Linked DNA regions of Homo sapiens: region 2 is linked to region 1. The links come from fine-mapping of genetic effects on gene expression. Tissue or cell type: whole blood. Region 1 holds a variant in brackets; the other region holds the start of a gene. All regions are shown on one strand. Distances are from middle to middle.

Evidence for each region. PIP is the estimated chance that this variant, and not a neighbour inherited with it, causes the effect.
Region 2: NRBF2 starts here. The variant in region 1 is fine-mapped to the expression of NRBF2 in whole blood (INTERVAL, PIP above 0.99).

Annotation. Positions count from the first base shown.
Region 1 is chr10:63,317,389-63,325,495 of GRCh38, forward strand. All of the region lies in intron 2 of JMJD1C (jumonji domain containing 1C), which reads right to left. Among named protein-coding and RNA genes, the nearest start is that of MIR1296, 52 kb to the right of the region's middle. The variant AAT/A (reference allele first, on the strand shown) is at 3,653.
Region 2 is chr10:63,129,507-63,137,613 of GRCh38, forward strand. It overlaps NRBF2 (nuclear receptor binding factor 2), which reads left to right and starts at 3,822. Exons shown (of 4, transcript NM_030759.5): 1 at 3,822-3,994. The coding sequence starts at 3,965. RefSeq lists silencers at 3,639-3,888, 4,099-4,368.

The DNA of each region.
Region 1 (8,107 bases):
CAGCTACTTGGGAGGCTGAGGCAGGAGAATCACTTGACTTATTAACTATAGTCATCCTGCTCTGCCATAGAACATTGGAACTTATTTCTTCTATTTGAATGTATGTCTCTACTGATTAATCAACTTCTCTCATCCTCCTAAGCCTACTACACACACACACACACAATCATTCCCATTGTTTGCAATTCTTTAAGATTCTTGACTCTGCATGTTTATAATGTTCTTGCAAATATGAAAACATTTCGTACATTATTTAATCAAATATTTTCACTGGCTGCCTCCTTGTCCTTGCACCCTCCTCCAACACCAGAATGCCAATGGTGCATACATAAATATTTGATATCATTCCAAAGGCCACTGAAATTCTATTCAGTGTGCCCCGTCGCCCCCCATCCCATCTATTCTATCTGTGCTTCATTTTGCATTGTTTCTATTGCTACATTAAAGGTCACTGATCTTTTTTCTTTTCTTTTCGAGACAGGGCCTTGCTCTGTCAACCAGGCTGGAATGCAGTGGCACGATCACGGCTCACTGCCACTCCAACCTCCAAGGCTCAAGTGATCCTCCTGCCTCAGCAGCCTCCCAAGTAGCTGAGAGTATAGCCATGCACCACCACGCTCGTTTTGTTTTGTTTTTGGAGACAGGGTCTGGCTCTATCACCCAGGCTGGAGTGCAGCGGTGCCATCTCGACTCACTACAACCTCTGCCTCAAGTTCAGGTAATTCTGGCATCTCAGGCTCCCAAGTAGCTGGGAATTACAGGTGCCTGCCAACACGCCCAGCTAATTTTTGTTAATTTTTAACTTTTTTGTAGAGATGGTGTCTCCTTATGTTGCCCAGGCTAGTCTTGAACTCCTAGACTCGAGGAATCCTCCTATCCTGGCCTCCCAAAGTGTTGGCATTACATGTTGGGATTACAAGTGTCAGCCACCACCCCCAGCTTGATCTTTTCTTTTCCCATGTCTAATATCTTGAAATCACCATCCAGTGATTTCATTTGTGTTGTTCACCTCTAAATGTTCATTTGAGTCTTTTTTATATTTTACATTTCTCTTATGTTAATGTTTTACTTTAAATCCTTGAGTATACTGAGTATATTATAATCATGCCCTTTTCTGCCATTTCCTTCATTCTGTCATTATTGCATCTGTTTCTGTTGTTTGCTCCTTTAAATATTCTGTTACTGGTCCAAAAATATACGAACTGATAATAACATGTCCAGAACTCTTACGTAAGTTCAACATTCCTGGGACATCAATACTTGTGATTTTCTAAACAAACTGGAATTTAAAAAAAAAAAGTTTCTTTGGCATAGATAATTTGAGAAGTACTGACCTAGACTTTTAGGTTCAGGGTTAATATGGACATATTTTCTCTATACTTTGGTTAGCTTCACTAACCAATGTATTTCATCATCTTCACTTCATTTATCTCTTTCAACGTTTCCTTAAATGGGTCTGCTCATTTCAGTGCCTCATCTAAACTTATTTTTAATATTAAGGTTTGAAAAACCTTCTGGTATCTGTATTCTTGATAAAAATTTTTATTATGGCTTTAATATCTGAATGACAACTTGGTGGGATTTAAAATCTAGGTTCTCTTCAAACCTTAAAAAATGCTCCCAGCACTCTGGGAGGCCAAGGTGGGCGGATCACAAGGCCAGGAGATCGACACCATCCTGACTAACATGGTGAAACACCGTCTCTACTAAAAATACAAAAAATTAGCCGGGTGTGGTGGTGGCCTGTAGTCCCAGCTACTCGGGAGGCTGAGGCAGGAGAATGGCGTGAACCCCGGAGGCGGAGCTTGCAGTGTGCTGAGACTGCGCCACTGCACTCCAGCCTGGGCGACAGAGCGAGACTCCATCTAAAAAAAAAAAAAAAAAAAAAAAGCTAATACATTTTCTGCTTACATTCAAGAGTTACTGCTGAAAAAGTGTGATGCCAATCTAATTCTTCTTCATTTGTTTGTGACTTTTTTTTTTCCCTCATCTCTGCAAGTCTTTAGCATTTTCTTTATCTCTGGCAGTCTTATATTTTAACTTTAACGTATGTTGTGTTTCTTTCTTCTCTCTTGACTCTGAACTCCTTTTAATCTGAAATTTCTCACCTCTCTCTTTTCTCTCTCACTTTAATTCTAGAAAACTATCCCTTTTATCCCTTTAAGTATTTATTCTCCACTTAAAAAAAATTATCTCCCTTCTTAGATTCCTATCTTCTGGATGTCAATACCTTTATTTCTGTATTTGATAGCTGTCAATTTTTCTTTTATATTTGCTATTTCCTTGTCCTTTTATCCCCGTGAAATATTCTCTTTAATCTTCCAATTAACAATTTTGTTCTTCAAATAGATCAATTCTGTTATTCATCTTTTTGTTTGTTTGCTTGTTTTCTCCACGACAGAGTCTCGCTCTGTTGCCCAGGCTGGAATGCAGTGGTGCTATCTTGGCTCACTGCAACCTCCACCTCCAGGTTCAAGCAATTCTCCTGCCTCAGCCTCCTGGGTAGCTGGGATTACAGGCACATGCCACCACACCCAGCTAATTTTTTTGTAGTTTTAGTAGAGACAGGGTTTCACCATGTTGGCCAGGCTGGTTTCAAACTCCTGACCTCAGGTGATCCACCCGCCTCAGCCTCCCAAAGCGCTTGGATTACAGGCATTAGCCACCATGCCTGACTCAACTAATTGTTATATTTTTAGTAGAGATGGTGTTTCACCATGTTGGCCAGGCTGGTCTTGAACTCCTGGCTTCAAGTGATTCGCCTACCTCAGCTTTCCAAAGTGCTGGGATTACAGGAGTGAACCACCATGCCCAGCATATCTTACATTTTGTATTATGTTTTTGATATTGAGTAATTTTTTCTTTTAGATTTTATTTCATATTATCTTCCTCTAATATTTTTAATACATTTATTAGGATAATTTTATATTCATCATTTGTCTAATCTAGTATTTCTACTACTAATGGCATCTGTAATCCAGTATATTATTTTTCTTTCCTTTGAATGTTTTATTTGGTCTGTGTGCTCATTTTCTTCTAGGAAAATACATTTAAGCAATGTATATAGACGATGTCAGCCCACAATCACTGTCAGCCCCATTGAGCTCAAGACATACAGGTGGAAAATACCTAAGGTGGAATATTCCAGGCAGCAGAAAACTACAATCTCTCATCTTTTCTCAAAACAATTCCTTGGGAAAGTAGCTTCACTATTTTTTCACATGTTAAAGCATCTAAATGGAGACTCTTCTTCGACTATTGTGATAACATGAAATATATATTTGTTTTTTGTCTCCATTTCCTGACATACAGCTTCTAAAATCCTTGTAGATACAGGCACTAGGAGAATCTTTTGTTCTAATATTTGTCCTTTGACTCCTGGTTCCTGACACCGAGCTCCTAAATCCCTAGGAATTTCCTAGGTGACAGAAGACTCTTTTGTTCTAATGAGGCAATCTTGGTGGGCTTCTAGATAGCCCCAGGATGGTGCTTGTTACCAAGGGAACCAACCATGTGTTTAGAGAGTTGGAAAGTTCATAGCCCCACCCCAGACCTCCAGGGAGAGGAGAGGGGCTGAATTGAGTTGATCAACAATGGCCAATTATATAATCAATGATGCCTATGTAATGAAGTCTCCATAAAACCCCCTAAA[AAT/A]AGAGTTTGAATGAGGTTCCAGACTGGTGTACAAGAACACATCCACGTGCCAGGTGGGTGGCACACACAAACTCCACAGGGATGAAAGTTCCTGTTCTCTGGACCCTTCCAGATCCCATCCCATGTATCTTCATCTGGCTATTCATTTGTATCCTTTAAAATATTCTTTGTAATAAATCGGTAAACATAATAAGTAAAGTGTTTCTCTGACCTTTGTGAATTGCTCTAGCAAACTAATTGAACATGAGAAGGAGCTGGTCTATAGCTGATCAGTGAATTTTATAGCTGCTCAGTCAGAAGTATAGGTGACAACCTACTACTTGCGATTGTCATCTGAAGTGGGAGGCAGTCTTGTGAGATTGAGTCCTCAATCAGTGGGATCTGACGCTAGCTGTAGGTAGACAGCGTGAAAAAATAATTCAGTTGGAGGATATCCAGCTCATGTCTGCTGGAGATCTGCTAGGTGTGTAAGAAAATACCCCAACACATCTGGTGTCAGAAGTGTTGTGTTGAGTCGACAGTGGAAAAAACAATTTGGTTTGGTTTTTCCTGCATCTCTTACCAACTATAGCGTATTAGCACTGAGAACTGTCTGGGTAAGAGGTAGGGAAGCAAAAGTTCATTTTTTAAATCCACTCAGAAGGAAAGGGCCTCTGCACTATCCTGAATTGACTCCTCAAAATATCAAAGGTCTGATACTTTACAAGTGTACGCGAGTTAGGCACCTTTGCTTCAAAGGCGTGAAGAGCTTCAATAGTTCCTTTCCTATTTTTTCTTCTGATAGCCAAGAGGATGCCCTCTCTCTTGACCTGGGACAAAGCTTCTCTATTCCACACACCAGTTCAAAACAGCCTTTCTTCCACCAACCTAGGGGATTTCTCACCATTTGCTCAGAACATTTAGTTTTCCCTTCTAACTGCTGAAGCTGACCTTGGGTGAGGAAGCCAAAAGTCACACTTCTTGAATGTCTTTTAAGGAATCTAAACCAGTTCATTCATTGTAATGATGAAATATCTTCTCATCTGAGTATATTAAGAGGATTTTCCCCCAAAGCTTTCAAAACAGTTCCTTGTATTTTCCTGGCTATTCTTTTTTTCCTACATGTTTATTCTCTCTCATGTTGGGAAAGCTCTTTTCAAATGTTGCACATGCCTTGGTTATCAATTTACATAAAAGAGAAAAGAATATTATTAAAATGAGTGGATGTCAGTTTACTGAGGATCTCACCTAAGGACTCTAAATTTTCAGAATTTTTTTCCTCTGGAAAATTCAGATTTCTACAAAGACAAAATCCCCCTCTAAACTCTTAGTTAAAAGGTATATGCCAACCTGCAGTATATTATGAGCGCAAGAGATGGAAAGTGACTTAGGTGGAAGGGACTCAGTACGATGATTTTAAAGCTGCTAAATTGTAAAATACAAAATGCAAGAAATTAAGATAGAATAGGGTTTAACTTTTTACACTTATTTGAATTGTTAAAAAATTTTCTGGCCAGGCACGGTGGCTCACACCTGTACTCCCAGCACTTTGGGAGGCCGAAGAGGGAGAATCACAAGGTCTGGAGTTCAAGACCAGCCTGACCAACATGGTGAAACCCCGTCTCTACTAAAAATACAAAAATTAGTGGCGCGCTCCTGTAGTCCCAGCTACTAGGGAGGCTGAGGCAGGAGAACTGCTTGAACCTGGAAGGCAGAGGTTGCAGTGAGCCAAGATCGCACCACTGGACTCCAGCCTGGGCAACAGAGTGAGATTCCATCTCAAAAAAAAAAAAAAAAAAAAACTTTTTTTTTTTTCCTAAGTTTGTCAAGGCACAGTTGAGGAAAGAACAGAATCTATATCAAATGTTAATATTAATGTAATTAATATATATTGATGTATATTAACAATTGTTTACGTATCTAGTCATAAATACAGAGGCAGAGCTGGGAAAAGTATTTAATATATATAAAAATTTAACATATACATACATAGATCTATATATGAAAATTAGATAATGTTGAACAAAAAGTAGAGAAGAGAGAAAAGGAAAGAACTGCCGCCTTGGGCAAGACCAAAGCAGCACTGGGTAAGAGTATGCGAGACAGTAAAGTCAACAAAGCTGTAATGACAGCTATGATGGACAGGTAGTGCTAAAGCTGAAACACAAGGAAAAGCCTGTTGGCCACAACAAATTAATTAAGCCTAGAAACAACAGTGGTGCCGGGTACAGTGGCTCACACTTGTAATCCTAACACTTCTGGGAGGCCAAGGCAGACAGATCACTTGAGGTCAGGAGTTTGAGTCCATCCTGGCCAACATGGTGAAATCCCACCTCTACTAAAAATACAAAAACTAGGCTTGGTGGCACGCACCTGGAATCCCAGCAACTCGGGAGGGTGAGGCAGAAGAATCACTTGAACCCAGGAGGCTGAGGTTGCAGTGAGCCAAGATCGCGCCACTGTACTCCACCCTGGGTGACAGAGCAAGACTGTTTCAAAAAAAGAAAGGGGGGAAAGAAACAGCACTGGTATTTTCTGAAGCACAAGTTATAAAACAATGTTATCCATTCAAAAACCAGAAGTCATACTGATAAGAGCACAATAAGGCCAGGTACATAAAACTAAAAAAATTCAAGGCATACTTAGATGTGATATAAAATGAGATGGCTAGTACAATGGCCTGCGGGGGCCATCTTGTGCATTCTCTCAATCTTCAAATGTCTTTGTATTAGAGTTCTCCACAAAAACAGGACCAATAGAGTGTGAGCATATTTGTGTGTGTTTCTCTGTGTGTTTGCATATGTGTGTGTGTATACATATATATATATAGGCTCATTATCTCATATGATTATGAAAGCCAAAATCCCATGATCTGCAGCCCACAAGCTGGAGAAACAGGAAAGCCAGTGGTGTGTCTTGGTTCAAGTCTGAAAAATGAAGAACCAGGAGCACCCACATCTGAAAGCAGGAGACAAGGATGTTCCAGCTCAGAAAGAGCCAATTCATCCTTCGTCTGCCTTTTTTTTTTTTTTTTTCTATGTGGGCCCCCAAAGGATGGACAATATCTGCCCAAATGGATAAGGGTGGTCCTTCCCTACTCAGTCTACTAGCTCAAATGCTAATCTCTTCGGAAACACCCTCACAGACACAGTCAGAAATAATATCTTACCAGGATCTGGGTATCCTGTGGCCCAGTCATGCTTACAACATAAAATGAACCATCACAGTCCTCAACCAACACTATCTCGTATATCCTTAAAACAGAGAAACCAAGGTTCAGAAAAGTTACCTACTGTCACAAAAGTAAGTAAACAGCTAAACCAAAAATCAAACTCGTGTCTATCTAAATCAAGAGATCAAACACAAATGCCAACTAAGATTCTGTGGAGGAGATAATAGTACAAAGTTAGGCCCTTGCTCCAAGAAAGTTCCTGCAGACGGAGATCAGATTTATACACATCAAACAATACAAACCCTGTATTATTCTATATTGACTACAACTTATAAACAAAGAAGCCTAGAGGAAAGAAAGATTCAGAATTAAACAGATTCCTTCATTCAATGAATGCTTCTTAAGAACTTGATATGTGACAAGCACTGGTAACCACAAAGTCAAAGCAGTGTGTTAACAAAACTCCTACCTATAGAGCTCATAATCCTGTGTGAGTGTAGAAATGGCAATAAACAAGTAAACGTGTATGTCAGATGGTGATAAGTGATTTAGAGAAAAATAAGCATTTTCGGGAAGAAAAGAGGTTCCAGGGTGGTGGTTTATACTGGGTAGTCACTGCATGTAAGTCTAATCAGAAAACATTTAATAGAAAAGACAGAACTTGAACTAGGCTTTCAGCTAGATTTTGAGTTAAATTGTAAATTGCTGGAGTCATGAAATCCTTAGCTTGCTTCATACAAACCAAACATACATTTTTACTGTCAGCTGGCTATCTACCTAAAGCCATCATAGGTGGCCTTTATTCTCATAAAATGACAAAGATATATATAGTCTAATTCTTAATATTACAAACTCAGATATCTGATTTTGTAAGCATACTGAGACTAGATGTCCTATTAGGGACAAACTTAGTAATCAAGCTCATAGCTACTGATATATAAACCAGAATGCAAATTTATTACTTTAAAATGATAATTATTAGCTGTTAATTAGTGTAGAAAGCATGGGGATTAACAAATAATACAAACTTTTCCTTAGGAAAGCTAAATCAAAATATTACTTGATAAACACAAATGACGTAAAACAGGGGAATAATAAGCCCAAGAATACTAGAATAGGGTTTCTTCTACCTCAGTGTTTTGGTTTTTTGTTTTGTTTTGTTTTGAGACAAGAGTTTGGCTCTGTCACCCAGGATGGAGTGCTGTGAGGAGATCACAGCTCACTGCAGCCTCAATCTCCGCGCTCAATCAATTTTTATCCAGTTCACCCTCTGGAGTAGCTGAGACCACAGGCACACACCAC
Region 2 (8,107 bases), 190 kb before region 1:
TATAGGCATGTGCCACCATGCCTGGCTAATTTTTGTATTTTGGATAGAGATGAGGTTTCGCCATGTTGGCCAGGCTGGGCTTGAACTCCTGGCCTCAAGTGATCCGCCCACCTCTGCCTCCACCTCCCAAAAGTGCTGAGATTACAGGTGTGAGACACTGTACCCAGCCCCTTCTATTTCTTTCTTTATAGCCTAGGAGTTATTGCTTTTCTCATGTAAATACCTAAACTCTGGCCACACCTTTGTAAAACAGTCCGTTTATTAAACCCTTCTGGGATTATTTTGAGTATGTCATTGATTTGCTTTAGATACAATGCCTCTGGTAGTCTCAATAATGGTCCGAAAGATACCCAGGTCCTAATCTGTGGAAGCTGAGAATGTTACCTCATATGGCAAAGGGACTTTGTAGGTATGATTAAGTTAACCTTGAGATAGGAAGACTATCTTTAACTATTTTGTGGACCAAATGTATTCACAGGGTCCTTACTAGAGGGAGGCAGAAGGATTTTAAGAGGAAATGACATGACAAAAGCAGCAAGAGCTTTGAAGATGCAGTGCTGCTGGCTTTGAAGATGGAAGAAGGGGCTGTGAGTCAAAGGAATGCAAAGAATGTAGCTCCAGAGGCTGGAAAAGAAGGGGGCAAGGCCTTGCTGTATACCTTTGTTTTGGCGCTATGAAATTATTTTGGTCTTGGCCGGGCATGGTGGCTCACGCCTGTAATCACAGCACTTTGGGAGGCCGAGGAGGGTGATTCACGAGGTCAGGAGATCGAGACCATCCTGGCTAACACGGTGAAACCCCGTCTCTACTAAAAATACAAAAAATTAGCCAGGCGAGGTGGCAGGCGCCTGTAGTCCCAGCTATGTGGGAGGCTGAGGCAGGAGAATGGCGTGAACCCCGGGGGTGGAGCCTGCAGTGAGCCAAGATCGAGCCACTGCACTCCAGCCTGGGTGAAAGAGCGAGACTCCGTCTCAAAAAAAAAAAAAAATTATTTTGGTCTTCTAGCCTCCAGAACTGCTAGCCTCCAAATTTCTGTTGTTTTAATCCACTAAATGGGTAGTAACTTCTTACAGCAGTCATAGGAAATTAATACAGTGCCCAAGATAGAACTTTTCATTTTCCATACAAATTAGCTCCTTCCTATTGTTACCAGGGGGTCTTTGTTCTTAGAGCTCCCAAGATGGTGGCAGGCCACTTCCAAGATGGCGGCAAGCCTTTTGTTCTCTGACCTGGGGTTCTTGGCCTCACGGATTCCAAGGAATGGAACCTTGGGCCATGCAGTGAGTGTTATAGCTCTATTAGAAGCCGTGGGTCACAGAAGAGAACCGTGGAACCCAGCAACTAGTGTTCAGCTCGATTAGGACAAACCCTGGGCACTTAGCCTTGCAGGAACAATGGCGAGCCTCTAGCCCGATTGGGAGCAGCAATGGGCGCCTCGCTGGATCAGGAGCACAGTGGACACCCTGATGGATCCAGAGGGGTGGAAGTCAGCGGCGGGTCTGTGATGGCAGCAAACAGCGGTGGTGGACGGTGAGTGAAAGCTCAGCTCAAGCTGTAACAAACATGGACCAGAAGAGTGTGCAGTTGCAAGATTTAATAGAGTGAAAACAGAGCTCCCATACAATGGGAGGGGACCCAAAGGGGGTTGCCACTCCCTGCTCGAATGCCTGGGTTTATATCCTGATCATTGTCCCTCCCCCTGTGCTCTCAGGCGATATATGATTTGACTATTTCTTTACCTTCTGCTTCTAGCCTAATTTGTATTTTAGTGAGCCCTCTTTACTACCTGATTAGTCGGGTGTGAACTGAGTTACAAGCCCTGTGTTTAAATGTGGGTGTGGTCACCTTCCCCAGCTAGGTTTAGGAATTCTTAGTTGGCCTAGGAAATCCAGCTAGTCCTGTCTCTCACTATCTTGTCCACTTGGTTGTTTACTTTTTTATTTTTTTATTTTTAGAGACAGAGTCTCTCTGTGTCACCCAGGCTGGAATGCAGTGGTGTGATTGGTCTCAGCTCACTGCAACCTCTGCCTTCCAGGTTCAAGCAATTCTCCTGCCTCAGTCTCCCCAGTAGCTGGGATTACAGGCACGCGCCACCACACTTGGCTACGTTTTAGTGCTTTTAGTAGAGATGAAGTTTCACCACGTTGGCCAGACCAGTCTCAAACTCCTGGCCTCAAGTGATCTGCTCTCCTTGACCTCCCAAAGAGCTGGGATTACAGGGGTGAGCCAGTGTGCTAGGCCACTTGGTTGTTTAAATACGAGATTTGATTCTTCCATTTTCTGTATGCTTTACTGCCATTCCATCACTAACTCCTCTCAACCTGATGCCCAAAAATATATCTTGAATATATCTACTTCTCTTCCAAGGTTTCCGGCACATGGTAGAAACATGATAACTATGTAATGAGTGGATGCATGACCCAATCTTCCCTACTTCCATTCCAGTCTGAGCGCCCATAATTAGTCAATCAACTAGCTTGTCTTGGTTCTTTTTCCTTAGGCCTTCCACAATCTATTCTTCACATTACAGGGAAATTAATCTTTTCAAAACTGTAAATTAAAGCAGATTATTCTCTAGCTTAATATCCTTTACTTATTTCCCAATGCACTTTGAGTAAAATTCAAATGTTTCATTGTGCACTGCAAGGACACCTATGTTTTGGAAGTTTCCTATCTCTCTGGTATCTTCTTTTGCATCTCTCTGAAATGCTGCAGCTCCCGCCACCCGACCTCCCCGCCTTTAGAGTTGAGGCATAAGACATTTCCTTTGTCGAGAAGGGTCTTTGTTTAACTGGCATTTTAAGGTTTAATCTTAAAGATTACGCCCTTAGCCAGGTGCGGTAGCTCATGCCTATAATCCCATCAGTTTGTGAGGTCCAGGAGGGCGGATCATTGAGCTCACTTGAGCTCAGCAGTTCAAGATCAGCATAGGCAACATGGCGAAACCCCATCTCTACAAAAAATACAAAAATTAACCTGGCCTGAGCACTTGTAGTTCCTAGCTACTTAAGAGACTGAGGTGTGAGGATCGCCTGGGGCAGGGGGCGGGCAGAGGGAGGTTGCAGTGAGTGGAGATTGCGTCAGCAAGACACTTTCTCAAAAAAAATCACGCCCCCCATGAAAGGCTTTCCTTTACCACCCAACTCCACCTTGGTTACTCTATCACAGCTCCCTATGTGTTCCCTTTCCAGCATAAATCACAACTATTTGTCAGTGAATTCCATGACAGAACGAACCTAGCTTTTGTTTGGCACATAATTGTTAAATGAATGCAGTATTATATTTGGCTAGACCAAAATTGTTTCCCTATCAGTTTGTGAGCAACTTGAGGGCAGAGCCCTAAATCATTCGAGTGTGCTGACCTCTAGGGGGGTTAGTCCAGTGCATGGTCTAGAATTGCTCAAATCGGCCTTTTGAAAAAATGAATCATGTACAATGATAAAGGTGTGGACAGGACCACAAGTAACGGTGTAACGATTAGCAGATTTAAGGAAAAGTCAGTCTAAAAGGAAACGTGAGAAGCTAATTGCAGAAGACAGCCATTTCAAGTCTTCAACAGCAAGGCTGTACCTCCTCACGTGACTTCAGTGTAGACTTTAAGAACCTAAACTAACGCTTCTCGCGAGAGGAAAGATTGACCGCTCGCAAGCGTACATCAGCTGGTGCCCCGCCTTCCCTGGGCCCCACCCACTGCCTGTCCTCATTCCCACCTTGAACCAGCCTTTTGCGCGTGTGACGTCATGGCGCCGTGCGTGGCCTCGGCGGTGGCGCAGGGGGCGGGCCCGCGGCGCGGCGCCGGAGGAGGAAGTGGTGAGGTTGTTGCTCCTTCAGCGCCTATCGCTGGCTCTTGGGGCGCAGAGAGGGGCCGCAGTCTCCGCGGCTGCGTCGAGCTCCCTTGCAGTCCCCTCCATGTTCCCCGGCGCCACTACTCCCCTTCCTAAGGCCGCCGCTTACCCCGGGGTCTATGGAAGTAATGGAAGGACCCCTCAACCTGGTGAGTGTCCCACAGAATATAGCGTTCGTCTTGGGTGCCTTTGCCTCAGGAGCCCGGCCCCGTCCCCGGCGCGTCGGCTAACCCTTTAGGCTGGGAGGTTGGTTTGGCAGGAGTGGTCGCAGAGGCTGTGAGGGGCTGCTAGGCAGGCCCTGGCCCAACTGCGGCTCCAGGCTAGCCACTTCAGACTTTGCCCTCCTGGGGGATCCCCGGGAAGTCCTGGCGCCCCCTGTCGCGGGGCCCCGGGCGAGGGGATGCCACCACCTGGGGCTGCCACCTCCTCTCTGGCTGGGGGAAGTCCTCTTAGCGCCACGTAGCCACCTCCCTACAGCCTGGAGAGGCACTGAAGCCGGCCAAGGCAGAAATGGTGTGATACTGGTTTTAAGTTCTAGCAGCAGGGTCTGAGTCTGAGTCGCCCCGCTTTGGAGAGGTGGAGGAGTGAATAGCCTCCTCACCCTCCACTTCCCCCTCCTCACCCTTCACTTCCCCCTCCTCACCCTCCACTTCCCCCTCCTCACCCTCCACTTCCCCCTCATTTCTCACATACATTCACATGCATAAACTGAGTCTACCGTCTTCCAAATATATTAGAGACAGCTGGGAAAAAGACAGCCGTTCCTGTATTTAGCTCAGATTCATCAATTTAGGCATCATGAAAGTGTAATAGGTGTTTGCTGTTCTCAGGAAAATGGCTGATAGCCTGTTTACTTGTGTTTTAAGGCGTTTCAGGTGTTGCAATTAAAAAACAACACAACAGAACCCCACTAACAACGGGAAGCATGAGTTCTTTTCAGACTGGCCATTGCATCTTTTAGTTTTCCAGAGAGGTTACCCATTTTGGATGTAAAAGTCAGATTACTTAAGGTTGCACACAGGAAGAACTTTTGAGTCACAGGTTTGCAATTCATTTGCGATGGTGGAATTGAAAGAAAGCTCTATAGAGGATTCTTTTCTCACATTAGAACTCTGAGTCCTAGAAGAGCAGTAGAGTCAGGTGGTTTAAGACTCTAGGTTTTGAAGCTATGCTGCTTGGATTTGAATTCTAACCTCGTCACTTGATATCTGTGTTACCTTGGGCAAACTACTTGGCTTCACTCGGCTTCAGGTTTTTTGGGAGGATTAAAGGAGTAAATAGGTGTAAAGCACTTAGAACTGTACTAAGTACATAGTACAGTGTAAGAGTTAGCGATTATAACCAGACCATAAGCCCTTAATTTAAAATCTATTTGTAGAATAAAGGTTTGGACTTGAGCTTTAAAAGCCTAAGATTCTCGGACCAAATCACTGGTGCCAGGTTAACTGTTGTGAGGCGCCCCTCCCTTTTAAGTTGGGTCTTGCCCCAGGTGGTAGGTATTTACACTTAAGACGAATTGGACTACATTTGCGAGTTTTTTTTAACCAGGGAACTGGCCAGGCGCCGGGGCTCACGCCTGTAATCCCAGCACTTTGGGAGGCCGAGGCGGGCGAATCACTTGAGCTTAGAAGTTCGAGACCAGCCTGGGCAACATGGCGAAACCCGGTCTCTACAAAAAATACAAAAATAGCCTGGCGTGGTGGCGCCCGCCTGTGGTCCCAGCTACTCGGGAGGCTGAGGTGGCAGGATCGCTTGAGCCCAGGAGGTGGAGGTTGCAGTGGGCCGAGATTGTGCCACTGCACTCCAACCTGGGCGACAGAGCGAGACTCTGACTCAAATAACCAGGGAACTGTCTTGCACTTTTCTTGTTTTTAAGGCGACATATAGTTGGCAATGAAATACAGTGGATGGCTCAATACTGAAACTTCACAGGAGTATTACTAGAAATAATCAGCTGTTTACGAAGTGCTTCAGAGTTCAGGTGTCCTTGCCAAATGAGCATTGGTTCAGTTCTAGTTAGCTTCACATTATTTGGCTGCAGAATAACCCCCGCCAACTGCCCCACGAATGTGTGATGTTTTAAAAGGAGACTAGAACTGGGTGACAGTTGCAGATAGAACTGCAGAATCACTACCAGTTCAGGAAAAATTAGTTAAATGGTGGCAATACCATTTAAATTCTCCTCCATAAAACGGAGCGAGTTTCGACAGAGTCTTTTTAAGCAGGCTAGCGTAACTCCGTATTTCAGCCATAAAATTTATGTAGGCAAGTATCAGAAATTTGGCATCTTGAATTCTTTTTTTTTTTTTTTTTTGAGATGGAGTCTCTCTCTGTCACCAGACTAGAGTGCAGTGGCGCGATCTCAGCTCACTGCAACCTCCGACTCCCTGGTTTAAGCGATTCTTCTGCCTCAGCCTTCTGAGTAGCTGGGATTTCAGGCACGCGCCGCCACGCCCAGCTAATTTTTGTATTTTTAGTAGAGACGGGGTTTCACCATGTTGGCCAGGATGGTCTCGATCTCCTGACCTCGTGATCCCCCCGCCTGGCCTCCCAAAGTGCTGGGATTACAGGCGTGAGCCAGCGTGCCCGGCGGACACCTTGAATTCTTAAACCATTTGAGTCTTGAAAGATCTAATTTCCAGCATAGTTGTTTATTGGAAGGTAACAGTAGAACAGACGTTGACGGTTACTTGAATGAGTACCAATTACAGGCCTCTGGCACTCAGAATTGTCACTCACAGTTTTATAAGATGAGGTTTTTGAAAATTCAGACTTTTTTTTTTTTTTTTTTTCTTTTTTGAGACGGAGTCTCGCTTTGTCACCCAGGCTAGAGTGCAGTGGTGCGATCTGGGCTCACTGCAGCCTCCACCTCCCGGGTTCAAGCAGTTCTCTGCCTCAGCCTCCTGAGTAGCTGGGATTACAGGCATGCACCACCCTGCCCGGCTATGAAAATTCTGACATTCTTTTATGTCAGTGAACACCTAACTTAGTATCTAGTTGACTCAAGATGAGAGTTCTCAATGCTATAATTTGAATGTCTTTGAAAATTCCACTAGTATTATACAAGCTTTTTCTTTTTCTATACTCAGAGAGTTACTAATGCAATAAGCTTTGTCAAATGACGTCGTAGTGTAGTCCAAATTCATTGTATAAGGACTTATCACAGTACATGGATTTGTAATCATGTGTCCTCAGAGCATCCTCGGAACTTAGTAAGGTGTGTTTTCCAGTTTTACAGATAAATAAGCCTAAGCTGAGAGAATTAGGTAATTACTTAGGTCAGTAACTTAAATACATTATGAATCACGAGTTATTTTGATATCAAGACCTCTTTCTAGCAATGCTGCCATATTGTACTCATCATGTTCATTTCAGTATGGTTCTCATCTATATTGAACTGTAGATTCTGTGTTAGCATTTATTACCTCTGCTCCAGTATTGATTCTTTTATGTTAGGTTTGGCAGTAAGGGCCTTAGAAATTCCTCACAGTGAATTTTTAAGATCTGGAAGAGACTAGTTTGAAATATTCATTTTAATATGTACCACAGAGGTAATGGATTCTAATTATCTGGTTATTGAAGTTTGTCAAAAGAAAAATTGTACTTCCACTGAAGAAAAAAATAGCTAGTCTTTGCACTCTGAATAACTTTGTTTCATTAGGGTTTTTTGGTCAATTTTTCTTTAAGAGACAGGGTCTTACTCTGTTGCCCACACTCAAGGGATCCTCCTGCCTGAGCCCTCCACAATAGCTGGGACTACAGGTTTGCACCACCATGCCCAGCTAATTTTTTCAAAAACTTTTTGTGGAGATGGGGTCTTGCTGTGTTGCCCAAGCTGGTCTTGAACTCCTGGCCTCAAGCAATCTTCCTGTCTCAGCCTCCCAAAGTGTTGGGATTACAGGCATGTGCCACTGTGCCCAGCCTGTCAGTTTTAAATATGGAAAAATTATAACTTATAAAATTAGTGTATATTTAGATATTTCTTTCCGTACACATTTTGTCAGTGTGACTACTGGTAACAAATGTCAAAACTCTTGTGAGATAATTTCTAGTTCTTTGGTTTGTTTGCTGCTGATTTGGAAAGTGATGTCAGATCTTAATTTATATGTGGCTGTTGCTCATGTTTTGCTTACCTCTGCTGCAAAGGGCAGGGTCCATGTGACTGCCTGGCCACAATCGTTTTCTATGTGTTTAGCCCTTAAGAGTGCTGAGAATGTTTGTTGAGTAACAGCTTCCCTCCAGAGTGGTCAGTTCTCACATCA